4 linked regions of the Homo sapiens genome follow. The protein of the gene in region 4 interacts with the protein of the main gene of each other region in a pairwise test. Each region holds a gene or a part of one and is shown on either strand. Other genes may lie near its edges.

Region 1 (7,282 bases), on a different chromosome or scaffold from region 4:
GCCCCTCCTCCATCACCACTGCCAGTTCCCCCAGCTCATCCGACCTCCAGCCTCCCTGCCCTCTGGGGGAGCCCAGCCCATGACCGTCTCCATGCTGCAGGGCCCCAGAGCCTCTGTGCTGAACTGCCTTGTGTCCAGCTCCCTTCGGCTCTCCACTGGGGTCGAAAATCGTCTCAAACTCAACCCGTCCCCAACTGGGCTCCCATCTTTCCCTCTCCTCCTGTCCATGCCTCCTTCCTTATGGGCTCAGGCCCAGATCTTCAGTGCTCCCTGAGCCCTGCTTTCTCTCACACCCACTACAGTCCATTGACAACACATGCAAAATCCAGCCACCTCTCACCTCCTCCACAGCCATCACCAGCCCGGAGTTCTTTGAGCAGCAGGTGGGGTGTGGTCCCATTCTGGCCTCAACCGGTCCACTCTAGCCACTCTGCTCTCTCCACTGCCCCGGGGCCTCTCCTGCTTCCTTCCAGCCCTGCTCCAAGGTTGCCTTCTCTATGAGGAAGACCTCGCCCCCTTCCCACTGCAGCCCCTGTGCGTGTGGACCCCCAGCTCCGAGGGAGTGGGCTGTTGAGGATTTTTACACTCTGCAATATTTCAGGTTCTGACATCAGGGTCAGCTCCTGGGCACTCAGCACGGAGTTACTCCCCATGAGAGTCGATGGGTGGCTGAAGCCACTCCACCTGTGCTCTGTGCCCAGCTGTGGGAAGGGTTCTGACTTCTCATTCACTCTTCCCCGCACCAATCCTACAGGGAGGGACTGTTATTACCCATTTTATGATGAGAAAAGCAAGGCTCCTGCCCAGCCTTCCCCACGGGTAGGGAGGAGATTCAGGGCTTGGCCCCAGCCATTTAGCAGGAGTGGGCGGGGCGCCTGAGGCACGGCGGGGAGGGATCCTTAGGCTCACCCTCGGGCTGGGAGCCTCTGCCAGGCCCGGAATGGTGCCAAAGGCCCATCCCCACTCCCGCCTAGATGCCCAGGTCCAGGCTCTGAGGGCTGAGAGGAGGAGGGCAGCTGTCTGAGCCCACGCACGCCGGGCTTCCCAGAAGCAAACACAGGAAGGGCCGAGGTTGGCCCTGACTCTGCCTGAGCTTCTTGGTGATGTGAGACTTTGTTCCCAAGCCTCTCCAGACTTGGTGAATATAATTTAATCATTACTATTACAGCTTCCAGAGCCACACACTGTGGTATAGACTACTGAATGATACACTAAACTAACATGAATTTGCCAATGAAATGTTTCCGCATTTGGCAACAGAGATAATAAAATAAGACAGCATTCTATCTCTTGCAAGAAAAAGCTTGAGATCAATTTGCCGCCACAGATCATTTAGTGGACAACAAGGACCCAAGAAGATGGAGGGGAGAGATAGAAGCTGCGGGCAGGTGCAAGGAGAGCCTCTCTGAGGGGTGATCCGCCCAGAGCCACACCGGATTGAACAGCCCTTGGGGCAGGGACTCCAGAGGGCAAAGGCTGCCGGGTGAGAGGCAGGAGGAACAGCGCTAGGAAGGTTTGAGGAGGTGCTGCCCCCAGGAGGGAAGTGGGGTGGCTCCCCATGGCTTCTCCCGGGGCTGGCACTGAAGCTGGAGCACAGGATGTGCTGACGGGGGTCCAGAGGCAGAGTCCTTAACTTACTCAGCTTAAGCGTGGCATGAGTCCCAACTGGGAGGGGCCCTGGCAGCATGAAACCCCCACCCCCACTCTCTGCGACGGCCCAGATGGAGGGCAGGAGGAACAGCGGTTCAGCCCTGGCTGGGGCTGCAGGGGCTGGGGTGTGTTACTCACTGGCACGATGGAGAACTGCATGAAGAGGCAGGTAAGTTCTGTGGCGGCCAGCACGTAGGTAAGCAAGATGACCGAGGACCGGCCTAGAGCGCTCATCCTGCCGGGGGACCGGCCCTGGTCCCTGGGAGCCCGAGCTCCCTGCATCCTGGACAGGCGCAGCAGGGAGACCCAGGAGAGATCCAAGCAGGAGGCTGGCGGAGCAGGGGGCAAAAGTCCAGTTGATCCGGGCAGGGGTGCTGAGTCACTGGGTCCCAGGCAGCACCCGCCTGGCCTTGCCTGCAAGAGAGGACAGCACTGCAGGACCCCCTCCCCAGTGGAGCTCTCCTGCTACCTGGACCTTAGAGGACACATCAGGGGGTCCCCCTCCTCCACTTTTGACAGCTCTGGTCTCCAGGCACACAGCCTCCCGGGGAGGGGAGACAGGGACAAGCTGCTCCCCCCGACCCCTGCAGGTGGGCCAGGCTCAGTGCCTGGTTGCCTGACACAGGAATGTGCCATGCCCCACTTTTAGAGGGAGGCAGAGGCTCGGAGTGGTGGCTGAGTCCACCTCAAATCATCAGCGCCTTCTGTGGCCAGAGGGCTGATGTGGGTCCCTGTGCCTGGAGGCCCTCCGTAGGCCCACAGTGGCCCTGTCCCCAACACAGTGCAGCTCTCAGGGAAGGTCTACCTTCCCCTGTGGCCAGCAGCCAGAGCTCCAAGGGGCTTCTGGAATGGTCTTGCGTAGGGGAGACATAGCTCAGCCTTCCAGGCTCCCCAGTAGCTCTGCCTTACCTCCCACAGCGGAGTGCTGTCTGTCCCCACCCTTCCCCGCCCGGCCTCCAACTGGTGGGAACTGGATTTTGCGGCTGCAGAGGACTTCCCCAAATTTTGCCACATTAACAGCTGACTGCACATCTGAGCCCCGAGGTACCGAACCCAGGCTGGTGGGGTAGGGCGGGGAGACCCCTGAGGGTCCGGGAGCTGCGCCTGGCGCCCTCCCCCATCCCGGGATGCAGGGAGGCTGGGGGGAGCAGGGCAGCCGCAGCAGGCACGTCAGGGGCACCTCATTGGGCAGAGGTGCGACGCTGCGCCGGAGTTCGGGGTTCGGGGCTCAGAGGCCGCCCTCTCCGGAGTGTGCTCGAGTACCTGCCTTTGCAGGGGCGGGCTTGGGCACGGGTGCCGGTGGGGTGAGCGCTCCAGGGTGACCTAGACACCGGTCCTTCCGGGATGAGCCCCGGCCCCGCCCTTTCGGGAGATGACTTGCAACAGGGACCGCCCCTCTGGGTCTGAGTTCCAGCCCTCGCGCTTTGCAATCGCCAGTTCCGGGAGCGCCCGTGCCACGGTTTCTGCGCTCTCACTGGCCGAGCCCGCCCCTCCCCTCGAAGGACCCGCCCCTGCCCCGCCCACCAGCGGGCTCGCCCCGTGCCCGGCTTCGCCCGCCCCAGCCCCCTCCAGCTTGAATCCTGCCCGGTGCCCGGGCTGCTGGAGGTGGACACTCTGACCCTCAGGCAGCACCGGTGTCCACTTTGGGCCTGAGGAGGGGCAGTGTGGGCAGGGGATGGGACCGGGAGGTGGAGGGAAGGAGAGAATGGAGGGGAGGCAGGGGCGGGGAGAGAAAAGCGGAGGAATGGTGGTGAGGGGTTAGGGGAAGAAGTCAGGGGAGGTTGTAGAGGGTGTGGTGTAGCCTGGCCCTGCCAAAGGTCTGCACAGAGCCCCAGAAGAGTGACCAGGAGACAGCTCTGGGCCCCTCCTCACTTCCCTCCCCAGACCCGGAGGCTGCTAGGAGCAGTTGAGAGCCCACTTTTCCCCATTTCACCCTGCCTGCCACTTCCCCACCCTTGCAGGGGCCACCAGAGATGCCAGCACACAGGTAAACAAGCCTCATGCCGCCCTCCGCAGCAGGAGCCGCTGGAGCACACACACCCCACGCTGCGCACACTTGGCCCAAGCCCTGCCCTTGGCCTGGGCACCATTCTCCGTGCCCCTGACTGTCACTAAGTAGGGAGATGCTCATTCAGGACTCCTGCCCCACCTCCTCCCCAGGCAAGGGCTGGGCACAGGCTCAAATGTCAAAACCAGTGTCCCCCTGCCATGTGTCAATCATCGCTCCACAGAGCAGAAAACTGCAGGGGTGAGACAGGGTGGGACGGACATCGCAGAGGCGAGCGAGAGCCGGCCAAAGTCCTGGTGGGCAGGGGGGCCAGAGCCAGGTGGCCCAAGGCCGGCTGGCTAAGCCATTCCAAGTCACCGTGGGAGTGGTTCAGCAGCTACCCTTCGTTCAGCAGCTCAGATATGTTGGGCATCAGAAAACAATACCCCAAAATGAAGGCCTCAGAAGCAGCTTCGGAAGAAAAAGTGTTTCTCTGACCTTCTCTTGCTCTCCTGTCTCTCAGTGCCATTTTCCCCGAAGCTGGCCTTAGAAACTGGAATCCATTTTCCCCAGGGCAGGTCATAGAAATCAGAACCCCGCCTTTCCACACAGCCAGACATCAAACCTAAAAATATTGCTCTAACTTTCCCTCCACCTTTGTGTTTAGAAGCTGGCCATAAATTATCTGACCTCTCTTGTTTGACTGTAGGGCATAAGACCCCATTCCAGGAGGGTCCTGCTCCATGCCCAGAAGGAAGGAATGCTGCTCAGAAAGTTCAAGAAATCTAGACCAACAGCCCTCGCTGCGCTTCCCCTTGCGGTCCAGGAGCATTAGTGCAGGTCCCTTGGTTCATCTGTGTTCCCGCATGGATGTCCATACTTTGTTGAGCCTAAGCATCAGAAATGGCAATTTCCCCCATATCTTTTTTTTTTTTTTTTTTTTTTTTTGAGACGGAGTCTTGCTCTGTCACCCAGGCTGAAGTGCAGTGGCGCGATCTCGGCTCGCTGCAAGCTCCGCCTCCCGGGTTCACGCCATTCTCCTGCCTCAGCCTCCCGAGTAGCTGGGACTACAGGCGCCCGCCACAGCCCCCGCTAATTTTTTTGTATTTTTAGTAGAGACGGAGTTTCACCGTGTTAGCCAGGATGGTCTCGATCTCCTGACCTCGTGATCCGCCCCCCCTCGGCCTCCCAAAGTGCTGGGATTACAGGCGTGAGCCACCGCGCCCAGCCTGTTTCCCCCATATCTTTGGGTCTTTGTTCTGAAAACTCCCATTCACACACGTCAATCAATTTGGGGACCAAATGCCTTTTGTCCAATCAATCTGCCCTCTGTGAGGTGGTTTCTTAGCAAGCCCACGGGTGCAGTGTACCGCTCGAGGGGATTCCAGCCCAAAGAGTGCAAACGTGTTTGCATCTGGAGTGCGTGTCCCCAGATCCTCTGCCAAGCTCGTTTTCAAGAATAGTCACCACTGGCCGCCCTGGGGACTTGGGGAGAGTGCAGTCAAGCCGAGAGCCCAGGTCCAGCCAGAGTTTCCTGGAAGGACTGCACAGAAAGGCCGGCTGTGTAAGGTGGGGGTGGGTGACAGGAGTCTCAGAGTGTCTTAGATTTGGGACTCCTGGGGGAGGATGGGCATCCACATGAACCCTTACTCAATGGGGCAGGTGTGAGGGACTGTCCCCAACAGGTTCCAGACGCCTCCTGGGTTCCCTGGGGAGGGCTTAGAGGATGAAGCGGCAGGAGGAGATGGGATGAGTTACCAAACTGCCCAGAGGTGTGCGAGGGAGGCTGAGGGTCCTCTGGCGCTGAGGTGTGGTGGAGATGCTGGAAACTTACCACTGTCTTCCTCCAGGTGAAGCAGGGCCTCAGGTAGCCAGGGAACTGGTTGAGCAGAGGAAATCGGAGAGACCTTTTTTTTTGTCATGAACAGGCTCAGTGTGAATGGGGGAACTTCCTGGTTCTGAGGGAATGTGGGAAAATTGCCCTTTAGGCTGGGTGAAGAAGAAAGCAAGTGGAACCCTGGCACCCCTGGACTTCCTCCTCCAGAGGAAGCGGCTTTGGTTGTGGGCCAGCGAGCCTGTGCGTCCCCAGCCCCAGGGCATTCACCGCTTCAGAGAAGCAAGGCGACAGTTCTGCCGGATGAGAGGATCCAGGCTGACTGGAGGAAGGAAGGGCTTTGGCTCATCTGGGCTCAGGTTTGGGAGAGGTGGCTTCTCAGAGGAGGTGATGCCTCAGCCAGTCTTAAAGGTGAGCACGGATTGTTTGGGTATGGGAAGGGCATCCTGGCTGAGAGAATAGCATAGATAACGGCTTAGAGGTGAGCCCAGGCTTGGAGTGTTCAGGAAGCTGAGCCACTGGAAGGGGCTGGGACCAAGGGTGTACAGTGGGGTGACGGGGCAGAAAGTGAGTCTAGAGAGAGGGGTGACCCTGGGAGCGCTGGGCAGGGACACAGCCAGACGTGCACTGAGAAGTATTGCTCTGAACACTGCATCCTGGAGGCTGGGACCTCTGAGGGGTCTCCCGAATGAGAGGAGGCCAGCTTCAGAGCTGACCCCTGCCTACACCACTGCCTGGACATTTGAAATGGCTTTGGGCCTATCTTAACCCGACACACATTTATTAAGCACCTACTGTGTGCATGCCCCATGCCAGCTGTTTGGGACGTCAGCTGGCAAAGCTGACCGCCTGGTGGTAGCTTGCATCATTAGAGTGCATGTGCAGGCTTCGGGGAGGCACATGATCCCGGGTCACCACAATGCCTAAGGAAATGACTCACTGCCTATGAGCACTTGAGTTCTTCCTGTGTGTGCAGTGGACGCCGCTGCAGGGTTCTGAGCCCCTTCTGTTCTCCAAGGAGCCTCTGGCTGATGTGCTGATGAGGGGTTGAGGGGAGGGGCAGTGCAGGAGGTCTCTGCTGTGGTCCAGATGAGAGGTGGTGTGGACTTGGATGGGGCATGGGGGGATTTGAGGGGCAGGTTTGGAACCTCCCTGGAAGGAGGCCTGACAGGCTTCCTGCTGGTTGGGGCCTGGGCTGAGAGGGCCAACTGAGGGGGCCTTCAGGTGCGGCTGGGGGCGACATGAGGGGAGGCAACCCTGCAGGTCCATCCACGGGAGGGGCCTGTGGGCCAGCAGAGAGGGCAGAGTGTGCAGTGTGCAGTTTGCGGCATGTGGTCTGAGCTGGACGTGAGGGTGTCATTGACACTCATGTCCTGTTTAGAGCTCCCACCCTGGATGAGATGACCAGGAGTGGATGGGGCTAGAGAGGAGAGGGGCCAAGGGCCAAGGCTGGACCCCAGCATGAGGAGGAGGTGCCCAGGGTTCTGACCAGGGAAAGGGAGGGAAAAATAAAGGAGCTGGGTCTGGAGAGAGAGGCAGGTAAGCGAGTGAAGGCCTGGGAGCTTCCCTGGGGCCGAGAGCTGGAGTCACTGGTGGCTTTGGCAAGAGCGTCATGAGCATGGGGGCTGACCCTCGGGATTCAAGCAGGAGGAATGGGCTGGACACCCTTCTGAAGGGTTTTGCACCAAAAGGGGGCTGAGAAATGGGACTGTGGCTGGAGGGGAAGTGGGATGAAGAGAGAGAACCTTTGTTTACAATTTTAAGATTTAAAAGAGTGATGCTGCAGAGAACGGAAGGGTGATGTGGAGGGA
Region 2 (7,693 bases), on a different chromosome or scaffold from region 4:
TGATAATCTTTCCTTCAGTCCAATCCATGAACCATTTGCATTATAATTAGTCAGGGAGTGCTTAATAAAAAGGCATATTCCTACATCCCACACCAATAGTTCTGAATCAGAATCTGCACTTTTAACAAGCACCCACCTTAATTCTCATGCACACAGAAGTTTACGAACCTCCATCTAACCTTATCAGTTTGCTGTATAACTTAAAAAAGAAAGCATGATAAATTCCTATCATCCAAGAACTCCGATAAAATGTTGGTTTCCATCCTTACTGTCAACTCTGAAAAGAATTTTTCTGGCACTGCCTATGACACTAAAGAAAAATAGGGTTTCACTGTTAATCCCAGCACTTTGGGAGGCTGAGGTGGGTGGATCACGAGGTCAGGAGATCGAGACCATCCTGGCTAACATGGTGAAACCCCGTCTCTACTAAAAATGCAAAAAAAAAATTAGCCGGTTGTGGTGGTAGGCACCTGTAGTTGCAGCTACTCGGGAGGCTGAGGCAGGAGAATGGCGTGAACCCAGGAAGCGGAGCTTGCAGTGAGCTGAGATCGCACCACTGCACTCCAGACTGGGCGACAGAGTGAGACTCCATCTCAAAAAAAAAAAAAAAAAAAAGAAAAGAAAAGAAAAGAAAAAGAAAAATAGGGTTTCACAAAGTACCTAGTCAAACAGATGTGCCACCAAAACTCGACACTCAAAACACAGATTTCAATTTGTTTCTTTTCTTTTTTTTTTTTTTTTTTTGAGACAGAGTCTCGCTCTGTCACCCAGGCTGGAGTGCAGTGGCACAATTTCTGCTCACTGCAACCTCCATCTCCTGGGTTCAAGTGATTCTCGCACCTCCGCCTCCTGAGTAGCTGAGATTACAGGCGTGCACCACCACGCCCAGCTAATTTCTGTATTTTTAGTAGAGACAGGGTTTCACCATGTTGGCCAGGCTGGTCTGGAACTCTTGACCTCAAGAGATCCCCTGCCTCGGACTCCCAAAGCTCTGGGATTACAGGCATGAGCCACCACGCCCAGCCTTCAGTTTCAGCTTCTAATTACCATGAATATCTGACACAGCCCATGAAACCGGTGAGAACACATCTGCCTCAGCCTGAGGAAAGATGTCTGTTTTAAATAAACAAGACTTGATGGACCAAAGGCATTCACACCATGACCTGAACACAGACCTGCGAGAATCAAGAACATTTATTTGCAAGATGGCTTGTTATTTGAAATGTTCTTTCTATGAAACCTGTGGGGCCAAATTCTGTAGCTGTGGTGTCTTGAGATCACACTATGTTAATTTGTTGCAGTTCACAGATAATTCCCTTTAAATAAAGAACAGAATCTCCAAGAAACTCAGGCTTCTGATATTTAGGGGGTCATGACAAGACAGAAGTCTGGTATATCATTCCTATAATCATAAAAGTGTAACTTAGGCTGGGCGCGGTGGCTCACGCCTGTAATCGCAGCACTTTGGGAGGCTGAAGCGGGAGCATCATCTGAGGTCAAGAGTTCGAGACCAGCCTGGCCAACATGGTGAAACCTTGTCTCGTCTCTACTAAAAATACAAAAGTTAGCCAGGAGTGGTGACGCACGCCTGTAGTTCCAGTTACTCGGGAGGCTGAGGCAGAAGAATCGCTTGAACCTGAAAGGCAGAGGTTGCACTGAGCCGAGATCGTGCCACTGCACTCCAGCCTGGGGGACAGAGTGAGACTCCGTCTCAGAAAAAAAAAAAAAAAAACCTTTAACTTAGAGTGAAGGGAATATCCGATTTACAGACACAAGCCTGGGAAGTCAGGCAGGGCAAATTCTTGTAAGTGAATAATCCCACCTTTCACTGCCATAGACCTATCTCACTCTGCAAAGCAGTTTCAGAATCCCTGACAATATTAGTGTGAAGTGCGCAGGTTGACAAAATCAGCAAAGTGGCTGAGAAAATTCTCAAGGTCACCAGGGCTGCCTCTAGAATACAGCTTGTATGACCCTGAAAACAGTGCTCTTCTGTCTCACCAGCCCCCACCCCCATTACAACCCAGACCCAGCTTTATAGGGTTGCAGATGGAGAGAAGGGCTTTGCCCAAGACCACACAATGAGCGGGAGGGAGGCACACCTGGGCTACAATCCAGGAGTCAGACTTCTGGGAGGGACTCTCACAGACCAATCTTGGCCAAGTTTTGATGGCCTCTCACTACCCCCACCACTGGCAGGGCAGTATTCAGCCTTTAGGCATGAAATATGTTCACCTCGCAGAATCCTGGGGGTCCATTTGAGTCCCAGCTGAAATACCCACCACATTTTTATAAGCTTCCTCGTCGAAGGTGAGCTTCCTCCGGCCAATGAGCGTGACTTTGGAAAACAGGCCCTGCTCCAGGATTTCCTTTAAGAGCACTCTGCCGGTTTCTCCGCTGGCGCCCAAAATAAAGACGGATTTATTCTGCATCCTGAAGTCTTCCCGAAGCTTCGACAGGGCTTCTGTTTCGGCCATGCTGGGGAAATAACATCGACAGATGCCGGTCTTAGGGTGTCAGGGGACTGCCAGTCCTTATCCCGAGGAACAAGGGCTGTTTATCTGTTAGGGAGGAGGATATTGTTCTCCGCAGTCCGGGCTCTGGGGAAAGTGCTGAGTCACGTGCGGGGCGCGGCTCCCCGGCCATCGCCCGCACCTGAGCCAGCAGACCCATCGGAAGGGGCCCGAGCTGGAGGGTGCGCCCAGGTGCCACAAGCTGCTGGCATCACTGGGCATACCCCACGGTATCCCCGGCCCGGCCAGGAGACCTGGCCCAGCTCGGTCCCATACGCGGAGGGGTTACCTGGGGCCAGCCCCCGGCCCCGGGTCCTCACGACGCAGCAGGAGCAGGGCGGCCGCCAGAGCAGCCGCCGCCGCCGCGCTCAGCGCCGCAGGCCCGGCCATCAGAGCATCCCACCTTCCCTGGTCGGACCGGGGGGGTTGGAGGCGACGGAGACAGCGCCTACCCGGCTTGGTCTTCCGGGTGGCCTCGCGGCGACGCTGCCTCGCCCCGCCCACAGGGGCGGGACCTGGAGACGAACTCCTGGCACCCTCACAGGCGCGGGGAAGGTGACCCCGAGAGCACGTGCGCGGAGCCGCGACCCTTCCTAAGTTTGGAATCTGCAAGACCCTCTTCCCGCGTTTTCCCTCACCTGCTGGGCTCAGCTCACCCAGGCGCCAGCTAGTAGACTTGCCAGACTTGATCTTCAATGGTCCCCCCAGCTGGAATGTCAATTGTATATTGGCCATCATCTCAAATTCACCAAGTCAAAAACTTAACCCTGCCTACCCAACCACCCCAAACAGGAATAAAACAAACCTATTCCTAGCCTCTCTTGGGTGTCACTGTCCCTACATAAACATACACACACACACGCACACACACACACACCTCCTTCTACCCTGTCAAGTCAGAAATCAGGATTCCTTTGATTCCTTTCTTTTCTAGCCTTTCCACACTACAGACTTATCAAGTCCTGTTATCCCATCTGCCTTACAAATATTTCTCCCATGTAATTCAAGCTCGCATCATATCTCCCCAGAATAAATGGTCTACCTGCCCAGGTCCTGGCCTAATTCATCACCTAGATGGTTGAACCCGGGTGACCTTCCACACCTGTGATTCAGTCTTCCTAGCCCAGATCAGTGGTTTGGGACACAGGTATCTACACTGGGCCTGTCCTGGATCTTGGAAGTCCTGAACAGAGGTTAGAATGACAAGCAGAAATCTGAATAATTTCAGATTGTTCAGGTTTTGTTGGGAACATTGGTCATTTGGGGGCCCCACCTCCCATCTAGAAGCCAATGAAACACATTGCCTCTTCCATCTCCATGGGAGTTATTATATGTAGGCTTTGCCTAGGCTCAGCAAGCCAGAGGCTCACGCATAGGTTTTCAGTTTTGGAGGAGTAATGAAAAGATGCAGTGAAGGCCTGAGATATATGTGGGTTGGTTGGGGCAAGGGTATAGGATTATGGCATCATATGATCCACCAGCCATCTGATGGTCTGATCTTGTCTTAAATTCCTGCCTGTTTTCAGAGACTGTTGTGAATACAGTACTTCCTGTTATTCTTCTGATAAATTCCTGTGCTGTATAAGCTTACCAGATATATTCTGTTGTTTGCAATAAAAAAGCTTGATTAATATAGAGCAGTGTGGTTCATTCCCCACTGGCCTGTCACAGTGCCTGGACTCTTCCCTTTGAGTTCCTAAAGGTTTTCTACAAGAATGCAATGTTAAACCTTGTCAGCAAACACTGTCCTAGTAATTCATTTATCAAATCTGTCACAGAAATTATTCATTGTACCCTGTCTATTCTTCCCCTTTGTTTAAAATTGTGGCATAATTAATATACAATAAAATGTACAGAACCTAAAGGTTCTGTTCCATGATTTTAGGAGATTGTATATACACCTAAATAACCACCACCAAAAACAAGATATAGAGCATGTCTGCCATCCCTGAAAGTGCCTTCATTCCCTTCTTGCAATCTCTCCCCACTCCAGAGGTAATCACTTTCTGGTCACTATCAACATAGATTAGTTTTGCCTGTTGTAGAATTCTATTTAAGAGTACAGCATGTACTCTTTTGTGTCCCAGGTTTTTGGCTTAACACATATTTTAGTATTTATTCTTGTTTGTAGGCCTGCATTATGATTTCTATGGGCCCTAAGCACTTCATGAGCCCCTTCATTTTATGTACACACACTATATAATCAAAAATTATGTCTTATGACTATGTTGCTATAAAGATGAATATGACAAACTATTTATATAATCAAAAATTATGTCTTATGACTATGTTGCTATAAAGATGAATATGACAATTTCTTTCACCTAAAACATTTTCTTCCACCTAAAAGTTTATTTTCACAGGCCCCAGAACTGTGCCTACTGTGCCAAATGAGTAAATCAGCCCTGGTTGTTTCATGTATCAGGAATTCATTCCTTTTTATTGCTGAGTAGCCTTCCAGTATTCCAGTATGAATATCCCACAACATGTTTAAATATTCTCCTGTTGATGGACATTTGGTTTGTTTCTACCTTTTGGCTAATTATGAATAAGGCTCCTATGAACATTATTGGACCAGTCTTTCTGCAGTAACATGTTTTCATTACTCTTGGACATATATATACACACACACACACACACATATAATGTTTTATATATATATATAATGTGTATATATATATAAAATGTGTATATATATAATGTGTGTATATATAATGTGTATATATAATGTGTATATATATAATGTGTGTGTATATATAATGTGTGTATATATATAAAATGTGTATATATATATATAAAATGTGTATATATATATAAGATGTGTGTGTGTGTGTGTATATATATATATATATATATATATATATATATATATATATATATAATATAATGACCCTGCAGGCAATCAGACCTTTTGGTTGTCTTCCCTTGTCCCCTAAAAATTGCTGTTATTCTGTTCTTTTTCAAGGTGCACTGATTTCATATTGTTCAAACACACGTTTTACAATCAATTTGTACAGTTAATACAGTTATCATAGTGGTCCTGAGGTGACGTATATCCTCAGCTTACGAAGATAACAGGATTAAGAGATTAAAGTAAAGACAGGCATAAGAAATTATAAAAGTATTATTTGGGAACCGATAAGTGTCCATGAAATCTTCACAATTTATGTTCCTCTGCCGGAGCTCCAGGCAGTCCCTCCATTCGGGGTCCCTGACTTCCCACAACACACTTGCAAGCTAGCACGAGCACGTGACAGTGATTTAGCCAACGAGAAGCAAGCAGAGGTAATATGTGCACATTTGAATCACATCTTTATAAGGAAGTTACCTTCTTTCCTTTCACTTTCCCTTTCCCTTCACTTTCCCTTTCCCCCTTTGCTTAGGCCAGAATGTGAATGTACTGGTAAACCAGCTCTGACCATGAGGAGAAAGACACTCTCTAGAGGATAGCAGGGCAAGGAGCCCTTGGATGACTTCATAGAACAGAGCCGCCTGCCCACCCTGGACTGCCGGCACACCTCTGGGGAGTGAGAGAAAAATCAACTTCTGTCATGTTGGAGCCACTGTAATTTTGTTACAGCAGCTTAGCCAGCATTTTGCCTAATGTAAGATTCTTTTAGTCAATCTTGTCAATGGATATTTACTGATTATCTAATGCAAGCCAGATACTGTGCTAGGCACAATAGATTTTTCCAAGGTGAATCAGGGACACCAGCTAAATTCACTCTCATCTTGAAGGCAAGTCATAAATACTTGGGAAGCTAAATAAAGTTAAGCAACATTATAAAACATCCCCCAAACTTTCACAGGGTGGCACATGCTGAAGGCCAAATGAGCATACAGAAATAGAAGGAAACTCAGAGAAAAACAAGTCCATGCCTTTCCTTCTCTGACAGCTGGAACCATGTCATCCAAGTGCTGAGATAATGTGACAAGACCTAGGCTCCTAGAGCAACCGGACCACAAAAATTCAGGGCAAAGGGGAAGGGGAAAGCATAGGGAAGGAGGGAAAGGGGACATAAAGAAACGGAGCTGGCATGGAAAGATCCTTGGCCAGAGACCTGCCTGCCACGTTCAGGTTTGCCTTTGATGAAGTCTCTTCATATATCTTGGCCTCCATTTCCCTATCTGTAAGATGGGAACTGTTTCATTACATTCGCTTTGCTCCAAGGAACAAACTGACTCATGGCGAGTAAAGATGGTGAATATTGTAATATTGTAAGGCTATAAATCATGTATAAGAGAGACAGAATCTCAGAGAAATCTCAAAACAGGATCTGCTGTAGGATGGGGCCTTAGGGAGACTGGAACTGTATTTAGGTCAGATTTAGAGTCCTCAGGATCAGGGATCCATGCATCTTCACTTCAGAGCTATATTTTTAGTTATACCTTCATTAAGACTCTGTTTCACGTGTTTGAAGCCCCAAACTCAAAATGTTTTGAGGAAAAAAAAAAAGGAAATGTCCTGGCTCATGCAACTAAAGAATCAGTGTATATAATAGTCTTGGCATGACCAGAATCAGCCAGTCAGCCAATGGGGCCAGGACCCAGTCCCTCTGCCAACCATGGCTCTATTTCCCTTCACGTCGGCCTTACTCTCAGACCCTGCAAGATGACCCAAAGGCTGTGCTCTTGCTCATACTCTTCATTGTCTAAATTCAACCAGAAGCTAGAGGGAACTTATATTGTGCAGACCAGTTTTCTTCAGGGCATACAATAAGGTAGATAAATGAGGAGAATGGATGATTGAAGCTATCAAGTACATCCCCCTAGATTCAAGTCCAGTAGAAAGAGCATAACTGTAAGCAGAAGTCCCCAGCTGTATCTCCTTAGTTCTGATTAAACCTTATGATTGTCACTGTGGCTCTGGGAATGAAGCCGGGTGGGGCTATCTCTTCCCACATGTCTGGGAGTAGGGGAGGAAGTAAGGTCCCCAAGGAAAGTAGAGGTCACTATTATAGAAAGAAAACAGAACGGATGTTAAATAGCATCTAAAGTGGCTATACTTGTTCCCCATTTATCTCATTTATTTGTAAATATGAATGCTAGATAATTTTTTTTTTTTTTTAACAAATGAGAGCTTTAAATAACTGTAGCATGACTAAGATATCTGGTTGGGCACATAAGAGGTTGGATTTGGTAAAGGTAGGTGTCTGAAAGAAAGTATTGTAATTTTCTGC
Region 3 (7,917 bases), on a different chromosome or scaffold from region 4:
AAAAAATAAGATTACTGATAACCAATTACTGACAATTTAGGTTTAGTCTCAAAACAATTTTAAAAAATTTATTTTATTAACCTGCTGTTCATTTAAACCTCAAAGTCAAATTCTGATAGGGGCCAGGTAAATAATTTAAATGAATGAAGGACTCTGCTGGGGTCTGTGGCAAATTGCAAGGTGTAGAGTGTTTAAAGCACAATTACGCTTTCACTCCAATTCATTGTTGCCACATTAGAGTGTGGGCCCAGGGTTTTGAAGTTGTAATTTTTTCAAAAAAAGATATTCTCATTTTATATAAAAGCTTCCAATTTTAAAGTCCTGGACAACTATTTCAAAAACTGTTAACACATTGTCTTGGCCTAATGAAACAAATATCCGGACAGAACCTAAGGGCTACCAGTTTTCAGCTTCTGATTCCAATCAAATAAAAAATTTTCCATGGTTGGCCGCAGCTGATATTCCACCTGCGACTTTACCTCTTATGCTGTAAAACTAGTTATTCACTGTTACTGACGGAGAGCACTTTATTAAACCAATAACTACAAGTAAAGCACCTCTAAATTATTAACTTGAAAGGGTACTTAGGGATAACCAAAATGGGTAAATACAGCTCTCCCCCATCTCTTCAAGTTTTAAATAGTTTGAGGCTAGCTGTTTAATTAATTGGAGTAGGTTACTGGATACCTAAATGCTACTACAGATGGTATGTCTGTTATGTTACTGGAAAAGTTCACAGCTGGGAACATTCCTATGCATATGTCAAAAGAGAAAAGCCTTTCTTCTTGACTAAACTCAAAGTCATAGTGGTGAACTATTACAACCCCAGGGGACCAGACATCAAATTCTAACTATAATACAATATTCACAAGTTACAATTCTTTCTCTCCTCTTCTCTTTCAAGTGAAGCAACTGCCCTCACTATTCCCTTTCAATCAGAACAAGGCCACCTAAGCATGTTCCTGGGAAATTACGCAGTTTACCCTAGAAAAATGTATAAGCTAAATAGAAAGCTTCTTTTACCCACCTACGGTACTTTTACCTTAGATTTTACCTTTTTTTGTTTGTTTTGAGACGGAGTCTCGCTCTGTCGCCCAGGCTGGAGTGCAGTGACGCGATCTCGGCTCACTGCAAGCTCCGCCTCCCGGGTTCACGCCATTCTCCTGCCTCAGCCTCCCGAGTAGCTGGGACTACAGGCATCCGCCACCACGCCCGGCTAATTTTTTCTATTTTTTAGTGGAGACGGGGTTTCATCGTGTTAGCCAGGATGGTCTCGATCTCCTGACCTCGTGATCCGCCCGCCTTGGCCTCCCAAAGTGCTAGGATTACAGGCGTGAGCCACCACGCCCGGCCTTACCCATTTTGTATGTATAGATCATCCCCAAATAGCAACAGAAAATGCTACTAGCATTTTCTGGAAGGTGTTAGGAAGGTTTAATCTTGTTTACTGTGTAAGTCTCTTAGGTGTCTATCTTTGTTGCAAAATTAACATTCACCCACCTGTTAAGGCTGCAAAATAAACCCCTGCTTGTGTCAAGGAACTCCTCCTCATTGTAACCACCAAAGCATAACTTTAAACCGGGAAGAGTCAAAAAGCTAATTGTATGACAATTAGCTAGGTAAGTCATCTATCTTTCTTCACATCCTCATTTACTCACTAGACATTCGTTAGTCTGTTCTTCTTAGTTAAATATTATTGTACTTCCAAGTCAAAGTCGAGGAAATAAGAATAAAGCTGATTTCTACAATAAATTTAATATTAATACCATTAATCTATTATTCTAACAATTCCAGAAGAATAGAAAGAGGTAGCCATTATTCACATTTTATGAATAAAAAAGGATGTTGAAAATATCTACATCATGCAGTGTTGCAGCTTTTCTGACATCCCATGGAGAATAATTATGTCATGATTCCGAAGTCCTATCTTGAAATTGTATCAGTGTTTCTAACTTTTATATGTAGTTTTTAGGTCAGCAGAAGGAAAGCAGAAAGGAAAATTATAGGAAGGAAACTTTCTAGACTGGGGATCTGAAAAGCAGACAAAACTCCTGTGTTCAAAAAGGAAAAGGAAGGAAACTTTTTTTTTTTAGCCTATGTGTCCCATACAGGATTCTTCTACACATCTTAAAGATGAGAAAACTGAGGGCTCACAGAGGTTAAGTTGTTCAGATTACGAGTGGCACAACCAAGTTTGAACCCAAGTATGCTTATGCTGAAAGGCTTCTCTTTTCAGAACACAAAACTACAAGTAAACACATTAATTAATTAATTAAATCAAGAAAATAGAGCTGCCAAAGTGAATCAGGGAACAGTTAATAATCCAATCTCCTTTTTAACTCAGACCATCAGTTGAGACACCAAAACCTCTAAAAATTCCTGCTATGCACCCCATAGCTAAGGCAGATGTCTTTTTTGGAGTTGATCCAGGAGAATTCGTTTGTGAGGAAGAGGAGGCCAGCCTCAGGGGCAGAGGACCAAAGGAGGGCAAAGGGTGTGGCGCGCGATAGGATGAGAAGGAATAGGAGGCGGGATCCTCTGCGCCGCTTCCGGGGTCTGCAGGCCGCAAGCCGCGGCCCCAGTAACCCCTCATCCCTGTGTCGGTCCCCATGCTTCTCACCACTGCTCTGCCCCTGCACACTGCCGCCGCCGCCACTGGAAAAGGGTTCCTCCGTGGGGCCTTCGTACGGGGTGGAGGTGGTGGGCACGCCGTAGGGCGGGCTCTTCTCGCCCCAGTGCAGGTTGCGGCTGCCGGGGATATCTGGGGGAGTCGTCACCCAGTGGCCCAGGTCCGACCCGGTGCTGAAGGACCTTGCAGGGAAGGCGCCGCCAAAGCCCTGCTCGTCCCGGGCACCACCCCGGTAGCCCAAGCCATCAAATCCGTCCGGGCGCCGCGGATGCATCGCAGCGGGGGCAGGATGACGCGAGCCCGCCCGGAGCCCACCACCACCGGGGCCACCACGACCTAAGCACACACAGCTTCCCGTCGGCCGCCGCCGCGTCAGGGGTAAATTCTGACAACCGGAAGTCACGTTGGAAACCCGGAAGTCTTCGGAGCACGTGATTATAGCCTCTTCCGGCAACCATTAAAGGGCACGGTTGCTAGGGAGACGCGGCGGTAACCTGGACCTTAAAAGTTTGTTGTCGTTAGGGAATAGGTGGGAATATGGTTGTGGGATTAATGAAACACAGTACCAAAGAGATTCCAGAAAGAGAACTGGTGTAGGAATAGGGCCTGCATGGGAGGAGTTCAAAGATGCTTCTTGGAGGGAGCCGATAACCCGCGGGTGGAGCCTACCCGGTGAGATCCCGGCCAGAAATACCCCATGTCACAGCTACGCCCCAGATCTCAGTGTTTTCTCACGGGCCTGGTGCCTCGCCTGCTCCGAGGAAGCTAGTAGAGGTTGGAGTTGTGGAGGGTTAATAACGTTCCACCTAGCTTTGTCTCCCGCACTTGGGGTTTTGGATCAAATCTATTGAGAGATATGGTACCGCCCAGTGAACGCGAAAGTACTGTGGACCACCAGAGCAAGCATTTTAAAAGTTGAAGTGCACGTCGGGGGTGAAAGAAACCCACGTACTCGAATACTGTCCTCCTGGAGTTAGAAATTACGCGTTTTCCTTTTCTAAGGCTGTAAAGAAACTATAGTTTTCTGTCGTATTTTTTTCTGATGTGTCTAAATCACTCAGGGTATTGAAATCCCAGTTATATCGTTCAAAATTGGGACCTCTAATTGAATAACTGAGAGGACTACTGTAGAGCGTCCCCTACTACCTGTTTTCATTAGCTCCACGGGCTCTTGGGCCAGGCTCCCTCCCCAGATCTGAGGAAGACTTCCATGGTTTCATCCTATGTTCCTTCAACTCGTTGGAAGCCCAGGATTCCTAGAGCTTTTCCAAGAGAACTCTGACGTGCAGTTCTCGATCTTCCAGATGCGAACCTTGATTGAGAGTGATAATCAACTTTGTTTTGATTGAACTGACATTTTTTTCTGTGGTTTTATCACTTTTTATTTTTTATGGGTGTATAGTAGGTGTATATATTTATGGGTTACATGAGATATTTTGATAGCGTACATTAAAATGTATAATTAACATTTTTAAATAACGAATTGACATTCTTAAATTTGATTGCGATGCAGCTTGGGCAAAGGTGTTGAGTCTCTTGACTGTATAAAATTTAAATGTCCATATAGTAAATTTTAAAATATATAGTAATCACAATTGAAAGGCAAATCACAAACAGAAAAATGACATTTTAACATGGTTTAAACAATGGAACAGTAGCTTTAATGTACAAAGAGTTCATACCAATGAATAAAGGCAAATCAGAAATATGAGCAAAGGACATGTAGAGGCAATTCATACAAAAAAAGGAAGTGTAAATAGATAATATCATATAAAAAGTCCTTTACTAATTGAAAAAAGGTAAATCTTAATTATCTTTCACGTATTAAGGTGTTTAAAAGGGAAAATGCACATTGTCTTTCCAGGTGAGAAGAAAGTAGCTTTCATTAATTTCTGAAGTGATATAAAACATAACTTTCTGATGGAGAGCAGTTTGGCACTATGTATCAAAAACTGTAAAAATAACCATATTTTTTGACTCCAAAATCTTAGAAAACAAATATAGGGGTTTTTTACATGTTTCTGGCATGGATAACATACATATGTTTATGGCATGCTTGCTCATAATAGGAAAAAAATAAGCAGGAATGCAAATATCAAATAATTATTATTGATTAATAATTTATTATTTAAAGTGTATATCCATACAGTTGTTTAACAAAAATATATTTATTAAGCACCTATCTCGTGTCAGATACTATTTTAAGCAATAAGGATAGAATGATAAATAAGCCAGACAAGGTGCTTGCATTGTTAGAACTGACATTCTAGTTTAGGGAGACAAAGAACAGATAAATATATCCTGTCAAATATAGTGCAATGTCAAATAATGACATGATTGTATTAAAAAAGCCTAAGTGAGCAATAAAGGAAGCTTTTTTTTTTTTTTTTTAGAATAAGGAAGTCCTCTCTGAAGAAGTGACCTTTGAGCAGAGAACTGAATGAAGTGAGGGAGTGAGCCATTTGTGAATATGTGGGAGAAGTTTTCCAGGCAGAGCTGAGCAAGAGAAACGCCCCGATAGCAAACTAGGTAGCCAGTGAGAAAGGGTGAAAGTGATAGGAAATGAGAGCTGAAAGGAGGCTAGGTGCCAGATCTTGCAAAGCCTTGTCGGTGGTGAACAAAATTTAGGTTTTTTGAGAGTAGAGGAGTAATGTGACTGTATTGATGTTTTATAGGAATCCACCTGGCTCTGTATGGGGAAGAGTAAAGGCTTCCACCTACTAAAGGCAAGCAGCTGAGGCAAAAAATAGTAATAATTTCATCTCGAGTGATAGTGTAATGGAGATGAGAAGGGTTTAGAGTGAAGATGTTTATAGATTACATTAGAGATGAGTATTAAATGACATGAAAATATTCATGTTCAATTTAAAACATGTACAGTATGAACTTACCTTTTAAAAATTCTACTAAAGATACACAATAGAAGAATGTGCTAAAATGATAGTATTATGTCTGAGCACGGGCTTGCATAGTTTCACTTTTTATTTAATTGCTCTAAAAACTTAGCTTTTTTTTGTAAGAAGAAAAATTATTTTAGAAAAAAATTAGAGCAAATTTGGTTATGGGCAGACACAGCAATAAAGATCTTTCTAGATTACTAAATCTGTTCATATCATTTAATCAGTAGTCTCTAGAGCACTATGAAAGCTCTATCATCCTGTATTTCTCCAAAATATTTCTAAAATAATTATGCTGAAATCGTCCAGAGTTTATTGCTTCAAACTAGTTTGAGAAACTCATAACACAGGAATTAAAACATGAATTTATAAAGTGGCCAATGCATTTTATGAAAACAACAGAATGTTTGTATTAGTTTCTATTGTGGCACAATGAATTACCCCCATAACAAATTGGGCAGCTTAAAACAACATTTAATATCTCATAGTTTCTGTAATTTAAAAATTTCAGAGTGGCTTCGCTGGATAGTTCTGCCTTAGGTTTCCCATGAGGTTCTAGTTAAGACTTCTACTTGGAATGCAGTCATTTTAGACATGACTGAGTTTGATTAGGGCTGGAGGATCCCCTTCTAAGATCTCTTACTCAGACAGCTATAGAAAGAATGTCTTTATTTCTTGCTGATTGCTGTTAATGAGGTTTCAATTCCTTGCCACATGAAGTTCATAGAACATCTTGAATGTCCTTATGACTTAACAGCTGGGAGACAGACAGCAAGGGGGAAACACAATGTCGTTTATGACCTAATTACACCTCATCACTTCTGCCATGTTCTATTTTTTTGGAAGAGAGTCACTAAGTCCAACCCTGCACTTAAAGGGGAAGAGGATTTGACTCTATCTTTTAAAGGGAGGATTATCAAACAATAGCATTTATATCATTAAAATGACTAAAATATTAAATCACTATATAACAATTAATGGGTGGAGGATATTATTAGGCACCAAAACTAATAATAAGGAAATTTTTAGCCCAAATATTAACAGAATAATATAGTTTTTTACTTTGTTCCTTAGTAAATAAAGGATTAATTTTCCTTGAAAATAATATGATAGAAATAGTATAACCACCCCCCAACGGGCTTAATACATATTTTCGAAAGTCCAGTCATTATTATTGTTGAGTTGAAATACAAATGAAAAGTTGCAGATTGTTTCAACAGTTTTCAAGAGTTGGCACAGAATGCTATGGTCCTACCAAACAAAAGTGCCTGTGCAGAGCAAGCAAGTCATTCATTTATGTTAACATTTTGCTCAAAAATTCTGATGCTAAATAAATTCAGCTCACAGGATAAAATAAAAATCACCTATATTTTTTATTCAAGAATTCACTCAGCAACATATATTAAGCACCTACTATGTGTAAACCACTGTATTGGGTACTGTGATGCAACTATACACTATTTTATTTATATCTTTTTTAGAGACAGGGCATCACTGTGTTGCCAAGGCTGGTCTTGAACTGGCTCAAGCAATCTGCCCACCTCGGTCTCCCAAAGTGCTGGGATTACAGGAGTGAGCCACTGCGCCCTGCCTGGTAAGTATTTTAAAAGGTGAAATTTAGTAATATTTTAAATATTTTACATGTAAAATAACTTGAAATAAGCAATTTTAAAAATATCTTTCAAACAATAGAGGTGTTTTTGTTTTCTTTTGTTTTTGTAAAATGATGTGATATAACAATCCACTATGGTGCATTTGATCCTGATTACATTGTTAGGGAAGTTAGGCAAAGCATATTTAACATCTACACACTTAATGGGACACACACAGTAAATGGAAGCAACCAAGAATATTTTAAATTGTGAATTGGGTATAAATTTTCTTAATTGCCGAGTTTATTCTTTTTCTACTTGATAGGCTATAGCATTTATGTTCAGAAGATGGTGATTCCCGAATTATTGGACTTAATTTTTCATCCCTCTACCATAGTATTATACTGTATGTCCATACCCTTGTCATAGCCTCATGATGGGCAGAGTGGACTTTCCTGCCCTTTGGGTAGTTGGTAGAGTGATATCCTTGGGCAGAAAGGTGTTAGTTAGCAGGTGTGACCCAAACAGAGGCTTTGCTCAGTTGGCTTGCCCGCTTGGGCTTCTGCCATAACCATGAGAAGCACCTCCTGAATAACCACTACCCCTTCACTCTGGGCTCCAGAAGGAGATATTTGGAGCAGACCTGAACCCAGCTGGAATTCTGGGGACAATCCCAGGTGAACCCAGCCAACATCACCAAAATCTAGCCAACCTGCACGCAGAGGAGTGAATGAGAAAAATAAATACTTGTATTTTAAACCACTAAGATTATTTTGGTGATAGGTGACTAACATGATGC
Region 4 (7,021 bases):
AAAGAAAAGATTGCTAGATTCAATTATATGAGGTGAAATATCTGTACATTGAAAAAAACTCAGATGAAAATTTCTGTCCTTATAATTACTGCTAGGCAAGAATTCCGTCTTGTTTTACTTTGCTTTTATATGAATTATTCCTAAAGTAAATCATTTTTATATGCCTACATCTACTGGCATTTTTATATTATGATTTTTCCATGAATGCCCTTTAGCCATTTATCTATTAGAGTATTGTCTTATTCCTTTATAAAAGTTGCCATATATTAACCTTATCCTTGTCTTATATGTTGCAAATGCTTTACCAGTTTGTCACTTGCCTCTTAATTTGCTTGGAGTTAATAAAGTTTAGAATATATCATATATAAACCTGGTTTACTACCCACACGTAAAACCTGATTCTGCCACTTTGTTTTGTATCTTCAGGCAAGTTTGATAACCCATCTTTACCTCAGTTTCCTCTTTGGTAAATGAGGATCTTAATATATTTTATAGGGGTATTATGAAGATTAAACAAAATAATTATTTAGAATAGGCCAGGTACTGTGGCTCACACTTATAATCCCAGCGCCGTGAGAGACTGAGGCAAAAGTATGACTTAACCCCAGGAGTTTGAAACCAGCCTATGCAACGTAGCGAGACCCACATCTCTACAATAAAGTAAAATAATTATTCAAGTGTTGTGGCACATGCCTGTAGTCCCAGCTACTTGGGAGGCTGAGGTGATAGGATTGCTTGAGCACAGAAGTTCCTAGGTTGAAGTGAGCTATGATTGCATCACTGCACTCCAGCCTAAGTGACAGATAAAGACTCCCCAAAAAACTCCAAAATGCATCAGAATAACTGAGGGCAATGTCTAGCACTTAGTAATCTATTTTAGATCTGATTTTTATTTATGTTGTTTTTCAGTATACAGAAGCTTTTAATCTCATATAATTTAATCTAACAATCTTTCTTTTAAGCCTTCTGTATTAGTCCCCTCTCACCCTGCTATAAATAACTGCCCAAGACTGGCCAATTTATAAAGGAAAGAGGTTCAATTGACTCACAGTTCTGCGTGGCTGGGGAGGCCTCAGGAAACTTACAATTACAGAGGAAGGGGAAGCAGGCATGTCTTAAATGGCAGCAGGAGAGAGACAGCGAGAGAGAGTAAGAGCAAGAGACGAACTGCCAAACACCTAAAAAACCATCAGATCTTGTGAGAACTCCCCCACTATCACGAGAACAGCATGGGGAAAACTGCCCCCACGATCCAGTCACCTCCCACCAGTGCCCTCCCTCAACATGTGGGGATTACAATTCGGATTACAATTGTTGATGAGATTTGGGTGGGGACACAGCCAAACCATATCAGCTTCAATAAGTGCCTAAACTTTTTTTAAAAAGGTAAGAAATTTTTTTTAAAATTTTTTAAAAAATTTCCACAGCTTTCTGTCTTCCAAAGCATAGATTAACTGGCCAGAATGTATAGCTACTTTGTGTAATTGCTAATTCATACAGATTTAACAGAATAAAAGATTATCTGATAATTATTGCCACTGAATTGCACACTTAAAAATGGTTAAAATGACATGTTTTACATGATATATATTATACCACAACTTTTAAGTTAATTATATATCAAAAACCATTTAATTGTGTACATTAAGTGAATGCTTTGTGTGACATATGAATTTATATCTCAATAAAGCCCTTTTTAAATTAAAAAAACCTGAGAAAGTAATGTCCATTTAGAATAAGTAATTTCACTACTACTTCCAAATGAAAGAGCTGTTAAAATAAACGCTTTGCATTGTGATTCATTCATTTGACAAATATTCATTGAGCACCTAAGAGCCAAGCACTGTGCTGGGCCCTGGAGATTCACTGGTGACCAAAACAGTCATGGAGCTTATAGGAAAGGTGTGGGAAACAGATGTTTTAAAAAATTTAATCTCAGCTGGGCGTGGTGGCTCACGCCTGTAATGCCAGCACTTTGGGAGGCCGAGGTGGGCAGATCACGAGGTCAGGAAATCGAGACCATCCTGGCTAACATGGTGAAAACCCGTCTCTACTAAAAATACAAAAAATTAGCCGAGCATGGTGGCGGGCGCCTGTAGTCCCAGCTACTGCGGAGGCTGAGGCAGGAGAATGGCGGGAACCCGGGAGGCGGAGCTTGCAGTGAGCCGAGATCGCACCACCGCACTCCAGCCTGGGTGACAGAGCAAGACTCTGTCTCAAAAAAAAAAAAAAAAAAAAAAAAAAAAAATTTCTCTAATGAATGTTCAGTTACAAATCTGAGATAGATACTATCATAGAAAACTGAAAATTACTATATAATGAGAAAATAATTTAGACTGGGGGTTAGGAAAGGCCTCTTTGAGGAAGTGAAGCTGTGACTTAAAGGAAGAATAGGATTTATCCAGGAAAAGTTTTCAGCAAATTCTATGGACATCTTAAAGTAAATAAGGAACAGCTTATAGTGACACTGAATTTTGTGGAACAACAACAAAAACAAATACTCTACTAATTTTCTTTAAAAGGCTTTTTAAGGAAATGTTCTTATTCCGTAAGTGATGCTAAGATGCAGTAAATCTTCTATGTCAGGGCTTCTTGGACCTTAATGTGCCTACAGATTTACCTGAGAATCTTGTAAGATGTGGGCTCTGATGCAGTAGCTCTGGGCTGGGGCCTGAGACTCAGGGAATGCCCACATTGCTCTGCAGAGGACCATGCTGAACTGAGGAAAACAGGCAGACATTTCAGAATTCTTGAATTATTTTGTAAACTCTCTATTTTCAGTTCAAGCAAGTTTGCTGCTGTTGGATTTCATAAAACTTTGACAGATGAACTGGCTGCCTTACAAATAACTGGAGTCAAAACAACATGTCTGTGTCCTAATTTCGTAAACACTGGCTTCATCAAAAATCCAAGTACAAGGTAAGTTGAGAAATTGAGACAAAAGGATTGGTGGTTGCTATGAATACCAGCCATTCTGTGGGTTTTCCTAAATGTTTTAATCCTGAAAACACCTGATAGTTAAAGCTCTTAGTTCATTTTGATTTCAGTTTCTGCAGATTGTGGGAAAACAGGTGGAAAGCCAAAAAGAGAGAAAGCAAGGGAGCGTGACTAAAAAAGTAAATATGAATGACATTGGTAAACTTGCTAACTCTTCCTTTTTTCTTCTCCTGAGTAATGATTCACAGGCTTAAATATGCATACATGTCACCAGGTGTGCTTGGGAACTATGTTGGGGCTTCACCCTCAGATATGTTGACTTACTGGGTTTGGTTGGGGTAGGGTAGTGGCAGGGAAGGGAGCCTGGAACTCTACATTTAAAAAAGGTGATTATCATAGGTGATTCTGATAGAGATAACCCAAGACCACATGTGAAAAACACTTCCCTTGGAGGTAATCTAGAGATTAGCCTCCGAAAGGAGTACCAGATCATACTCTTTACTTGGTTAAAAAATAAAATTATAAAGGATTAATTTGAAGATAATTTTTAATGTTTTCTCTCTTTAGAAATAGCTTTAATGTCTTTGTAAACATGATGCATACTTATTTGTTTAAATTCCAATGTTAATGAAAAATACAAATCGAAAAGTTTCTTTTTTAATTTCCTTAAAACCCTCTATTGAGTGGAAACCACTCTCAAAATTTTGATAAACATCCTTCTAGACTTCTCTGAATTTTCTATAACTGGCGTATGTTACACATGGGGTCCTGGAAGCAGCAAGTATACTGCATACTTCCCTCAGCATTATGTTACAGACATCTAATAAAGTACAGAGCATTATAATAAATTGTATTGATTATTGGGAGCAATAGCATCTCCTAGTGATGATTTTAGGGTTGTTTTTAGTGTTCTGGATTTTTAACAGCAAATCAGCAATAAGCATCCTCGGGCACACATATTTTCACTTTTGGATAATTATCTCCCTCAGGTAGATTCATAAAGGGGGATTACTGGGCCAAAGGGTATATAACTTGTAAAAATTCCTACATATTGCCAAACTCCTCTCCAGAAATGCTCCACTGATTTGCACTCCTACCCACAGTGCAGGGAGAGCAACTTACTCTCTACTTCTTCATCAGTCTGCCTTCTGTGACTCTTTTAATCACCGCCAATCCAGTACGCGAAGAATCATCTTTGTTTTTACCCTGATGACTAGCTACATTCATGTTCGCATATGATTTTTGGACATTGCACTTCCTTTTATGAATTGCCTATTTTCATGGCATCAGCTCACTTTTTGCTATTGAGCTCTAGAGTTGTTTTTGTTTGTTTCTTTGTTTGTTTTTTGTTTTTTTTGAGACAGGGTTTCACTCTGTTGCCCAGGCTGGAGTGCAGTGGCGCAATCTCGGCTCACTGCAACCTCCACCTCCCAGGTTCAAGCGACTCTTGTGCCTCAGCCTCCCGAGTATCTGAGATTACAGGCACGCACGACCACGCCCAACTAATTTCCGTATTTTTAATAGAGATGGGGTTTCGCCACGTTGGCCAGGCTGTTCTCAAACTCCAGGCCTCAAGTGATCCGCCCACCTTGGCCTCCCAAAGTGCTGGGATTACAGGCATGAGCCACCATGCCCAGCTGAGCTCTAGAGATTTTTAATTAATACATAAGAAACAATTCTTCATACATTTGAGAAACCCCTTTATATATCACATCTGTTGCATATGTTTTTTTTTTCCCCAGTTGTTTTTTGTTTGCTTTTAAGCCTATTTTCATTTAGTTTTACATTAAAATTTTCTTAGGGATTTTTTTCTCATGGACTTTAGGTTCTGTGAGGTGTTTAGAAAGGTCTTTCTCATTCCAAGTTTTTGAAAATATTTACCCATATTTTTTCTAGCATATATTTTATGGTTGCATTTTTCATATTTAAATCATTGCCCCACCCAAATTTATTTTGATTTAAGAAGTAAGGTCACAGTATAGTTTTTTCCAAATAGTTAATGAGTTTTCTGCACTATTTATTAAATAATACATCATTTTCCTCACTGATATTAAATTCATATTATAAGTTCACATGCTTACTTGGATAGACTTTTGGATTCTCAATTTTATTGTAATGATGAGATTCAATTTTGCTTGGTTTTGTTTTGTTTTTCAGACAGGGTCTCATTTAGGCTGAAGTGCAGTGGTGTGATCATGGCTCACTGTAACCTTGAACTGGGCTCAAGCAACCCTCCACCTCAGCCTCCTGAGTAGGACTACAGTGTGTGTGCCATCATGCCCAGCTAATTTTTTTTTTTTTTTTTTTTTTTGAGAGCCAGGATTTTGCTGTTTGCCCAGGCTGGTCTCAAATTGGCCTTGAGCAATTCTCCCACCTCCACCTCACCTCCCAAAGTGCCAAGATTATAAGCATGAGTCATTGCATCCAGCCAAGATTCAATTTTTAAGTTTTATTCTGCCCCCTCAAACTTCCCCATATTTCCCCCAATTCAGCTGCCTTTGTTGAAAATGTATTTAAAATTAATGAAAAATATTCAGTGTGGCCACTTGAAGGGTTAATTTGAAGGTAAAATTGAAGATTCTAATTTTTTTCCTTTTTTTATTTTTTTTATTTTTTTTGAGACAAGGATTCGCTCTGTCACCCAGGCTGGATGCAGTGGCACAATCACAGCTCGCTGCAGCCTTGACCTCCTGGGCTCAACCTATTCTCCCACATCAGCCTCCCCAGTCCCTGGGACCATACAGGCATGTGTCCCCACACCTGGCTAATTTCTAAATTTTTTGTAGAGACAGGGTCTCCCTATGTTGCACAGGCTGGGCTCAAGGGCTCCTTGAACTCAATTGAACTCCTGGGCTCAAGTCATTCTCCCAACTTCAGCCTCTCAAAGTGCTGGGATTACAGGCATGAGTCACCATGCCTGGCCTAACAGTTCTATTTTATTATTATTATTATTTTTTTAGTGGAGACGGAGTTTCATCATATTGGTCAGGCTGGTCTCGAACTCTTGACAGCTGATCCACGGCCGCCAGGTTCTATTTTAAACACACTTAATTTAAGTCATCCCACAGGGAAGCAGAACAGAAAGCCAACGTTAGACAGAAATTTGGGAGCTGTCCAAAGATCTCAAGCCCCCAAGAATCTATCAAACAGTCTTTAAAATCTATTTTTAATACACAATTTTTGTTAGAAAACAAAAGTAAGAGTGTATATTTTAGAGGTCAATGTTTAAATTTATCAGTATTAAACAAGAGAACCCTAATTGGAGTCTGAAGAGAGAAGAGAAGGGACAGATATGTTTTTCAGGTTGGGAAATGGATCTGAGGAATGAAAGTAGTGAGGATAAGCTTCACTAAAACTGAAAGCAGATGTTGAAGATAAAACTTGCCAGTTTCCTCAATTTCTTTTTCAGTATGTGGATACTAAAATAACATATTTGAGTCAAGTTTTAAAGTCATACTGTCTTTCAGTAGTTAAAAACAGACATCCTATTTTCAAAAGTTATAATTGAATTTTTTAACCTTGCCCCCCCTACAAGGCCGCACAGAGCTGACCTTAACGTGGGCTCCAGCGCCCTCTCCTGACAAAACTTACTAGTGCCATTAATTCCTACATATTGCCAAACTCCTCTCCAGAAATGCTGCACTGATTTGCACTCTGGAGGAAAAGTGTGAAAAGAGGCTAAGATGATTCTAGGCTGAATATAAACCTGGCTAAGGAAGGGCCTAAAGATTGGTCCTGACATATGAACCTCTTTGAGGCTAAGCTGGTACTAAAGTAGACCCCAAAGATGAAGTTGGTTTTAATATAGAAACTTATTACTTCTAATTAGAAGAGAGAACATGTTCCTCGTTAAATACCTGTTTACATTTCAGACACCAAATAAAATGTCATTTTCTTAAACCTCACAACAATACTTTTGGGGAGATGTTATTAGTCCCTCTTCAGTAGATGAGAGAGATCTGAGGTTTAGAGAAATTAAATTACAAGTTATATACCCTTTGGCCCAGTAATCCCCCTTTATGAATCTACCTGAGGGAGATAATTATCCAAAAGTGAAAATATGTGTGCCCGAGGATGCTTATTG

The links.
Region 1: the proteins of HSD17B11 (region 4) and SLC67A1 interact in binary tests that used the Homo sapiens proteins (3 or more experiments, as listed by UniProt).
Region 2: the proteins of HSD17B11 (region 4) and HTATIP2 interact in binary tests that used the Homo sapiens proteins (3 or more experiments, as listed by UniProt).
Region 3: the proteins of HSD17B11 (region 4) and SLC25A46 interact in binary tests that used the Homo sapiens proteins (3 or more experiments, as listed by UniProt).

Annotation. Positions count from the first base shown.
Region 1 is NC_000011.10:2,897,996-2,905,277, reverse strand, and holds the start of SLC67A1 (solute carrier family 67 member A1), read right to left. Parts: upstream 3,001-7,282; 5' UTR 2,914-3,000; exon of another isoform or gene 2,683-2,913; coding exon of another isoform or gene 2,560-2,682; intron 2,065-2,559; coding exon of another isoform or gene 1,933-2,064; coding exon 1,789-1,932; exon of another isoform or gene 1,703-1,788; intron 1-1,702. UniProt on the Homo sapiens protein: May act as a transporter of organic cations based on a proton efflux antiport mechanism. May play a role in the transport of chloroquine and quinidine-related compounds in kidney. Plays a role in the regulation of lipid metabolism.
Region 2 is NC_000011.10:20,359,022-20,366,714, reverse strand, and holds the start of HTATIP2 (protein HTATIP2), read right to left. Parts: upstream 3,002-7,693; 5' UTR 2,904-3,001; coding exon of another isoform or gene 2,803-2,903; 5' UTR 2,479-2,802; coding exon of another isoform or gene 2,478-2,478; coding exon 2,283-2,477; intron 1-2,282. UniProt on the Homo sapiens protein: Represses translation by preventing reactivation of elongation factor eEF1A. May also inhibit nuclear import by competing with nuclear import substrates for binding to a subset of nuclear transport receptors.
Region 3 is NC_000005.10:110,734,106-110,742,022, reverse strand, and holds the start of SLC25A46 (mitochondrial outer membrane protein SLC25A46), read right to left. Parts: upstream 3,017-7,917; 5' UTR 2,904-3,016; coding exon 2,621-2,903; intron 1-2,620. UniProt on the Homo sapiens protein: Transmembrane protein of the mitochondrial outer membrane that controls mitochondrial organization.
Region 4 is NC_000004.12:87,353,177-87,360,197, reverse strand, and holds part of HSD17B11 (estradiol 17-beta-dehydrogenase 11 precursor), read left to right. Parts: intron 1-2,781; coding exon 2,782-2,919; intron 2,920-7,021. UniProt on the Homo sapiens protein: Can convert androstan-3-alpha,17-beta-diol (3-alpha-diol) to androsterone in vitro, suggesting that it may participate in androgen metabolism during steroidogenesis.